Homo sapiens: one gene and its partner. The protein of the gene in region 1 purifies or fractionates together with the protein of each later gene. This does not show direct contact. Each region holds a gene or a part of one and is shown in the gene's direction. Other genes may lie near its edges. The genes, in order: ABCG1 and ADGRG5.

The links.
Region 2: the proteins of ABCG1 (region 1) and ADGRG5 purify together in Homo sapiens (co-immunoprecipitation; one large-scale study listed by IntAct). This does not show direct contact.

What each region holds. Positions count from the first base shown.
Region 1 is NC_000021.9:42,278,072-42,281,877, forward strand, and holds part of ABCG1 (ATP-binding cassette sub-family G member 1), read left to right. Parts: intron 1-3,806. UniProt on the Homo sapiens protein: Catalyzes the efflux of phospholipids such as sphingomyelin, cholesterol and its oxygenated derivatives like 7beta-hydroxycholesterol and this transport is coupled to hydrolysis of ATP. The lipid efflux is ALB-dependent.
Region 2 is NC_000016.10:57,562,903-57,566,708, forward strand, and holds part of ADGRG5 (adhesion G-protein coupled receptor G5 isoform 1 precursor), read left to right. Parts: intron 1-188; coding exon 189-345; intron 346-945; coding exon 946-1,077; intron 1,078-2,131; coding exon 2,132-2,248; intron 2,249-2,386; exon of another isoform or gene 2,387-3,696; coding exon 3,697-3,806. UniProt on the Homo sapiens protein: Orphan adhesion G-protein coupled receptor (aGPCR). Ligand binding causes a conformation change that triggers signaling via guanine nucleotide-binding proteins (G proteins) and modulates the activity of downstream effectors, such as adenylate cyclase.

The sequences.
Region 1 (3,806 bases):
CTTTGTTGCTACAGAAAATGTTCTGTGTGGAATTCTTTTATTCTGAGATTGAAAAGAAAATGGATGAGTGGAAACCAAAAGAGAGAAAATGTGGAAATCACATGTGTTCCTGGCCCTTCATGGGGGCAGAAGACCCAGCCTTGTGAGTTTATTGTCTAGGCTGAAAGGCGAGAGCCCCCTCTGGATAGTGTTTTCTAAACAATGTAACGTAGACACCCCCCCACAACACACACACCACCTCCCAAGCCCGAGAATGTTACTTATACCAAGTTATGGAAGATGAGTGTTATGGCCTGAATTCCCCCCAAAAGATGATATGTTAAAGCCTACACCCCAGAAACCCAGAAATGGCTGTATTTGAAGATCGGGTCTTTACAGAAGTAATGAAGTTAAAATGGGGTCATATGGGTGGGCCTCAGTCCAGTCTAACTGTGTCCCTGTAAGAAGAGGAGAGGAGGACCCAGACACACCAAGGGATGGCCCCGTGAGGACACAGGGAGGAGGCGGCATCTGCCAGCCCAGGAGAGGGGCCTCAGGAACCAACCCTGCTGCCCTCGATCTCAGACTTTGGCCTCCAGAATTGAGGCGGGAGTTTCTGTTGTGGAAACCAGCCAGTGTGGGGGACTTCGTTACAGCAGTGAACGTAACAAACGAGAGCCTTAGTTCCAGGCACACAGAAGAACATGGAGAAAAGCAGGTGTCAGAGCTGAGTCTCGGCGAAGTCTCCCATGGGAGATGAACCCAAATCAACAGAACGGGGCCCTGGGATTGAGCCAGGGCGACCTTCACTCTCCCTGTCTGAGGTCAGTTTTGCCACCCCCCAGTCCTGGGCCCTCCTTGCCATCAGCTACAGGACAAGAGGAGAGGCCGGCAAGAGTGTGCAGGGCCCCCATGAAGCAGAGGCTTTTCCACCCGGAGACTCAAGAAGCTGCTCCTCCCGAAGCCTGGATGCAGTGCCCCTGGATCCGCCTTTCAGGGCCCTCCTTCCCATCCCCCGGCCTCCCTGCTTTCATGGGGTGTCGGAAGCACAATCCAATCTCTTTGTCTCGGATAGCCCTCCATCGAGGTCCCAAAGACCCCTCCAGATGCTGGCCTGCAAGCTGAGGGGCGGCTGTGGGGGCTCCAAGGAGAGACGGTGGAAGTGGTCACTGATGCTCGGCGTGGAGGAGGAGCCAAGAGCTCTGGAGAGGGAGGCGCTGGAGAGAGGGAATTCTGTCTCTCTGACCCAAAATAAGGCCCAAGGACAGAGCAAACGGTGGAGAGGGTCTCGGGGATCACCGGAGGCCGGGGGAGCAGACGCAGGAGGCGGAGGGCGGAGAGACTTGCTAACACGGAGAGGCCCTGTGGTGAAGTAGAGCTGAGCACACGGGGGAGCCCTCCATCCTGGCCTCCTGGAACCCACCGGATGGCCTTGGGCCACTGCCTGCTGTGCCCCGAGCCGAGCTTCACCTGTAACGTGGGGACAGGAAGCCAGGCCCCACCTGCCTTTTGGGGCAGTGCAACCTGAACTGGATGGTTTCTTTAAGGTCTCTGAGCTCGATGGAGCCCATGTGATCCATATGGGAGGGGCTGTGGGATTGCTTCCCTGCAGCATAAGGCGACAGCCACCAGCCTTTTCCGGGGTAGCTGGTGAAAGTCGCTCTCCCCATGGGCTGGGCGCACAGTGAGTGCTGCTCAGCAGGCTCCGTGCTGAAGTCACAGCAAGCCAGGCCCTTGGCCTGCCGGAGCTGGAAGACCCAGAACAAGCTGGCATCTTGGTGGAGAATGGAGGCGCCTCCCAGGAGTAGCTACACGGGACCCGAAGGCAGATGGCACCCATAGGTGTGTGTCCTCGTGGTGCCTGGGCCCTGCCTAAGACACGGCCCGGATGAGAGCCTCCAGCTATTTTCAACTGGGTTTACAAGGGCAAAAATATCAGCTCATGTGGCTGAATCATCCCTGAGGGGTGAGCCCCTGGCGCCGTCCTCAGATTCCTCTTCGGCTGGATTGAACAATGCAGAGAGCCCTCCCCACAGGACCTGGAGGCCACGCTGCGTCCTGCACATGCTCCTCACCAGCAGACCCAGCTGTTCCTCAGCCATGGCACAGGTGCATGCCTCGCCATCGGGCCCACCATCAGGATTGCTTCAGGAGAACAGGGCAGCAACTTTGTGCCTTCACTCACTTCCCTCCAACCCCCGATGTGCACCTAGGTCAAAGTTCTCTCTCTGTCTCATGGAAACACAATGGGATGGAATGTTCTAGAAGATCATGGAATTTTTGCTGTGTTGTTCACGGCCTTCCTTAATTCCCAGCAAAGCAGCCTCAGCCCTCCAGAGCCCTCCAGCAAGGCCACTTCCTCAGGAGTGAGGTCTCCAGGGGCAGCCTGGGCTGCCGAGATCCTCCCTGGAGCGCCCGCCGGGAAGCCCCAGGGGGGCTGGAGCTACAAGTGGCCTTGCAGGTTTTTTGTTTGTTTGTTTAGGGAAAATGTATAAATAACTGAGATCATTGTTTGTTCTTTCTGACTAGTCTTTAAAACAGAACCCTTCTGGGTGGCATCACTCCTGAGCGGACACTGGAGAAAGTGGGGTGGGCCCAGCTCATGGGCAGGGGTGCGGAGGGAAAGGCACCCACAGCGGCCTCCGCTTCCAGCATCCCCTCCGTGAGGGTGGAGGGAGAGAAGAAGATGTGCCGCATGTGTGGGGCCCCCACAGTGAGCCTGGAAGCACCAGAGCCACTCAGTCGGCCAAGAGCGTCGCCCAGTGGTTCCAGAAGATCTGGAGGCCTCGTCCTGGGAAGACCAGCAGTCGATGCCAGCTGGGAAGAGGGCTCTGCCCACCTTGCACGCCCCCCACCCACCAGCCTTTTCCAGACAGCCTTCCAGAAGCTGTTTCTGGGTTGGCGGCCCTCAGAGCCAGGCATCCAGCAGAGGCACCAGGGCTGGGGTGAGGGCATCAGCAAGGAGGTTCAGGACAGGGCTGGAGCCCAGGTCGGCTGACCCTGTACTGCCACCTGCCCTGGCCTGTCCAGCAGCCGTGCCCCGGTTCTTTCTGTCACCAAAGCTGCACTTTGTACCGACTGTGCATAAATAATTCAGAAGCTCAGAGTGGAAATTTTCTTCCTCGTGAGTTCTTCCTCCCTTCAGATGACTTCATCTCCCTAGAGGAGCCGCTGGAGTAGGGTCCGCTTGCTATGGCTCCCAGGGGCCGGCCACCACAGGGCTGCCCTGGCAGGGTGGGGACAATAGCTGGGTGAATGCTGGAGGGAGCTCCAGGTGGGCTGTCCCCAGGGTAGGGAGGCAGGGATGGCAGTGGCTGACCCAGGGCCTGCTTCTGAGATGATGCTGGGGCTGAAAGCAGCACCAAGCCAGCACAGAAATCTGCTGACCTTCGTGTTCCCTGAGTCGATACAGGATCAATAATCCGGAGCAGACAGGGAGGGCTCCGTGCGCAGTGCCCTGCTTGTTCCTGGCGTGCAGCCTGCTTCCCAGAGCCTGTGCCGTGGTGTGGCTACCGTGGGTCATGACTGCTTTGAGGGGTACTGCAGATCTGTTTCGTTGCCTTCCTGGCACCTCAGAGACCTTGCTTTCAAGTCAAACCTATTTACAAGAACAAAAGTGACTCTGTCCCCCTCCCCGAGAGCCCTGGTGTGTGTGACCGTGTTCCTGCCCTTAATGCCTACCTCAGCGATGACAAGAGTGCTGGGAACAGCCCCCACGGACTCCATGCTGCTCTGTGCACTCTGCATCCACTCTTTCAAGTAACCATCACAGCGACCCTCCCCTTCGTTCTGGGCAGAAACCACCAGAAATTGTGCATCCTCTCATG
Region 2 (3,806 bases), on another chromosome or scaffold:
CAAGAGGAGGGGATAGATGGGGTAGGGAGGTAACAGTGTGCCAAGGACACTGTGTGTGCAGTGGTCTGGAGGTGCGTGTGACAGAGGTGTGGGTGGGGAGGCCCTGCCCTCCCAGGCTGTCTACAGCCCCCTCTCACCCTTACCCCACTCCGGGCTCTGGCCTCCCTGGCCATCTCTCTGGGCTGCAGTCAACTCCACCAGCTGGAGCAGATGCTACTGAACACCAGCTTCCCAGGCTACAACCTGACCTTGCAGACACCCACCATCCAGTCTCTGGCCTTCAAGCTGAGCTGTGACTTCTCTGGCCTCTCGCTGACCAGTGCCACTCTGAAGCGGGTGCCCCAGGTCAGAGGCTGCGGGTTGGGGGGTGTGGCCAGCTGCCCCGCCCTAGAAGTCCTCCAGGCATTTAAGGTCTGGACTTTCTTTAGGCTCCACTGTCTTCCTCCCCACACCCCACAGTCCAGGCTCTGCCCTAACTGGCAGTGAGTTGCCTCCTCTGTAAAATGGGGCTCATACTCGCTGTGTGAACTGTGGAAAGGGAGGTGCTTTATTGCCCCTGCAGGGCAGAATCTTCTTCCTGCTTTGGCTGGAGGCTGCCCGCTGCGGGAGGCGCTGTGGGAGAGGCCAGAAACCCTGGCTCCTTTTAGGACCCTGGGGTGATCAGCTGGATCCCTGGCAGGGGCTGGGGCTGGTGCTGGGGCTGGGTGCTGAGGTAGCTCCATCTTCAGGGGTTCAGTGGGTCAGGTAAACATCCAAAACTCAGGAACAGCATGGAGGGAAGGCCTGGGATCTTGGGAAGTTTGGGAGGAGATGCAGCCTGGGGGGAGAAGGTTCTGTGGGTGGAAACCCCAAGGAAGGTTTCACGGGGAGTGGGAGGCAGTGAAGGTGTTGGGGTCAGGTCTCCAGGTCCTGGTTGCCAAACAGCCTGTTTGCGACCCTCTGCAGGCAGGAGGTCAGCATGCCCGGGGTCAGCACGCCATGCAGTTCCCCGCCGAGCTGACCCGGGACGCCTGCAAGACCCGCCCCAGGGAGCTGCGGCTCATCTGTATCTACTTCTCCAACACCCACTTTTTCAAGGTCAGTGTGATGGCGGGCCAAGGAGGGTGGGTGCCGGCCCCTTCTTGGGATCCACTGCAGGTGCCCATGTCACTGCCTGGCCTCTGGGTGACCAGCACTGAGTGAGACCAACCAGCCATCTGTGCAATCCAAGCCAGCAATTGTCCCTCTCTGGGCCTCAGTTTCCCTGCCAACTTTAGCAGAATGGTAGGAAGGTATAATTACAATCTGCAAATAAGACCTAAGAAACCTACGATGTGCCTGTCGGTAGGCGGGAGACAGACAAGAAGGCACTTATTATTCCCTGCCCTCAGATAACTCTCTGTCTTGATGCCTAGACTAAGACCTTACAGATTTTTTTTTTTTTTTTTGGCAGAGTCTCGCTCTGTTGCCCAGGCTGGAGTGCAGTGGCATGATCTCGGCTCACTGCAACCTCTGCCTCCTGGGTTCAAGCAATTCCCCTGCCTCAGCCTCCTGGGATTACAGGCGTGTGCCATCATGCCCAGCTAATTTTCGTATTTTTAGTAGAGACCGGGTTTAACCACGTTGGCCAGGCTGATCTTGAACTCCTGGCCTCAAGTGATCCGCCTGCCTTGGCCTCCCAAAATGCTAGGATTATAGGCGTGAGCCACTGAGCCTGGCCTGATCTTAGAGATTTAATGTCAGCAGAAGGTTGATTATAGCCATAGAGATCCAGAGTGATGGATGAGTCAGGGTGGGGTTGGGGCTCTTCCCAGTGGGCAGTCCAGGGGAGTTTCTGGGGAAGGTGCCTTTCAACCTTGGCTTTGAAAGTGAGTGAGGATAGTGGTGAGGTGGAGGGCGTGAGGCTGGAATGCATTAAACGAATGGGAGGTGGAGCAGGGGGTGGTGAGAGGACAGCTTTCCACAGGGCAGAAACAGCACATGCAAAGGCTGGGAGGCTGGGAAGGCTGGGAGGCTGGGAGGCTGAGAAAGCTTTCACGCTGCACACGTGAAAGTCTTGCTGCTTGTTCTCATCCAGGGAAGCGGAGCTCAGACCTTACCCAGGGCCTCCCCATTTCCCCTCCACTCAGCCCTTCTCCTGCTGCCCTTCCAGGATGAAAACAACTCATCTCTGCTGAATAACTACGTCCTGGGGGCCCAGCTGAGTCATGGGCACGTGAACAACCTCAGGGATCCTGTGAACATCAGCTTCTGGCACAACCAAAGCCTGGTACTGCTGGGGGCGCCCCCGTTTCCACTGCACCCCTGCCCCTCTGTGACTCTCCTGTTGAACACTGGTTTGACTAGACCCAAACCTGTGGAACCATCTTGGAAATCCATCACACTTTGAAAATTCCTGCTCAAGAAATAAGAGAGAGAGAAGTTTTTACTCATGCATTTGTCAGAATTCTTTCAGTTGCAAGTAAGAAAAGACCACTTCAAGCCAGCTTGAGCACAGAGGGAACTGATTGGCACACATCCATGAAATGTCTAGAGGTGATCCACCAGCTTCAGACATAGCTGGATCCAGGGATGGATCTGATGCCCTTGTGGCTCAGTCTCTCTCCGTCTCAGCAATGGTCTCCTGTCTTGGCTGTCCATTCTGTGGCATGATGGATGCTGGAGAGCCAGACTTCCTTTCCCTCTTCCCATCAGGCTCTTCCCCCGACTCCCCACCCACAACCTGCCCCAGTGCAGATCAGGGTCTCAGGATCTTAAAGGTTCAGCTGGGTCACACATGTCCATCCCTGCACCTGTCACTGTGCCCAGGGGGATGGAATGTGTGGATTGGCCAGGCCTGGGTCACACGGCCCAGGGACTGGGGTGAAGGAGTGAGCTCCTAGGGTAAGTGCAGATGCTGATCCTGGAACAGAGACAGGGCTGCTTGTTGGGGGTGGGGGCAGAGTGGGGTGGTTCACAAGCCTCAGTGCCTCCATTTCTGGTTCCTGGCATTCCTGAAAAGCCCGGAGCCTCTGCTTTCTGGCTTCATCTTCCCTTCAGCTTCACCAGGACTGCCCTGCACTCTAAATTTCACCATCATCCTTTCCTTTCAGCTCTGGGCTTTTGCCACTATGGTTCCCTCCACCTGGAATGCCCTTGCCCTACTCGTGTTGAAATCCAACACGTCCTCTAAGGGTTCAGGGCCCCCACCTCCCCTTCTCCCTTTGGGTCAGCTCTGCCTACCCTCCATGGTCTTCCGTGACTACCTGTGTCATTTCCTCCACTTCTCCACCCACGTGGCTTGGCATTAGGGTTGTCTGTGGATGAGTCTCCCCCAACCAGGCGTGGGTCTGAGCACATTGCTGTTCCCCATGGGGAGGAAGGGAAGGGATCAGCTGGTTATGGAGCGCCTACTGTATAAAAGGCCAGAGCTGGACACTCAAGATTCCGTGTTGCCCTTTGTTTTTCCACCATTGTTGTAACATGGGTACGAATGATCCTATTCTGTAGATGACTAAACTGAGGCTCAGAGCAACTTGGTGTCTTGCCTGGGTCACTCTGAGAGCCCACAGTGGAGGTGGGACAGGAATCTGAGACTGTCTGAAGCCAAAGGCCAGCCAGTGCCTGGTAAAATGTTGGCAAATGTGCAGTTGAGTCACCGTTGGCCCCCAGGACTCCCAGACACTGATCTGCAGCCTTTCCTCTGCACCCTATGACTGACCCAGCATCTCCACCCAGGAAGGCTACACCCTGACCTGTGTCTTCTGGAAGGAGGGAGCCAGGAAACAGCCCTGGGGGGGCTGGAGCCCTGAGGGCTGTCGTACAGAGCAGCCCTCCCACTCTCAGGT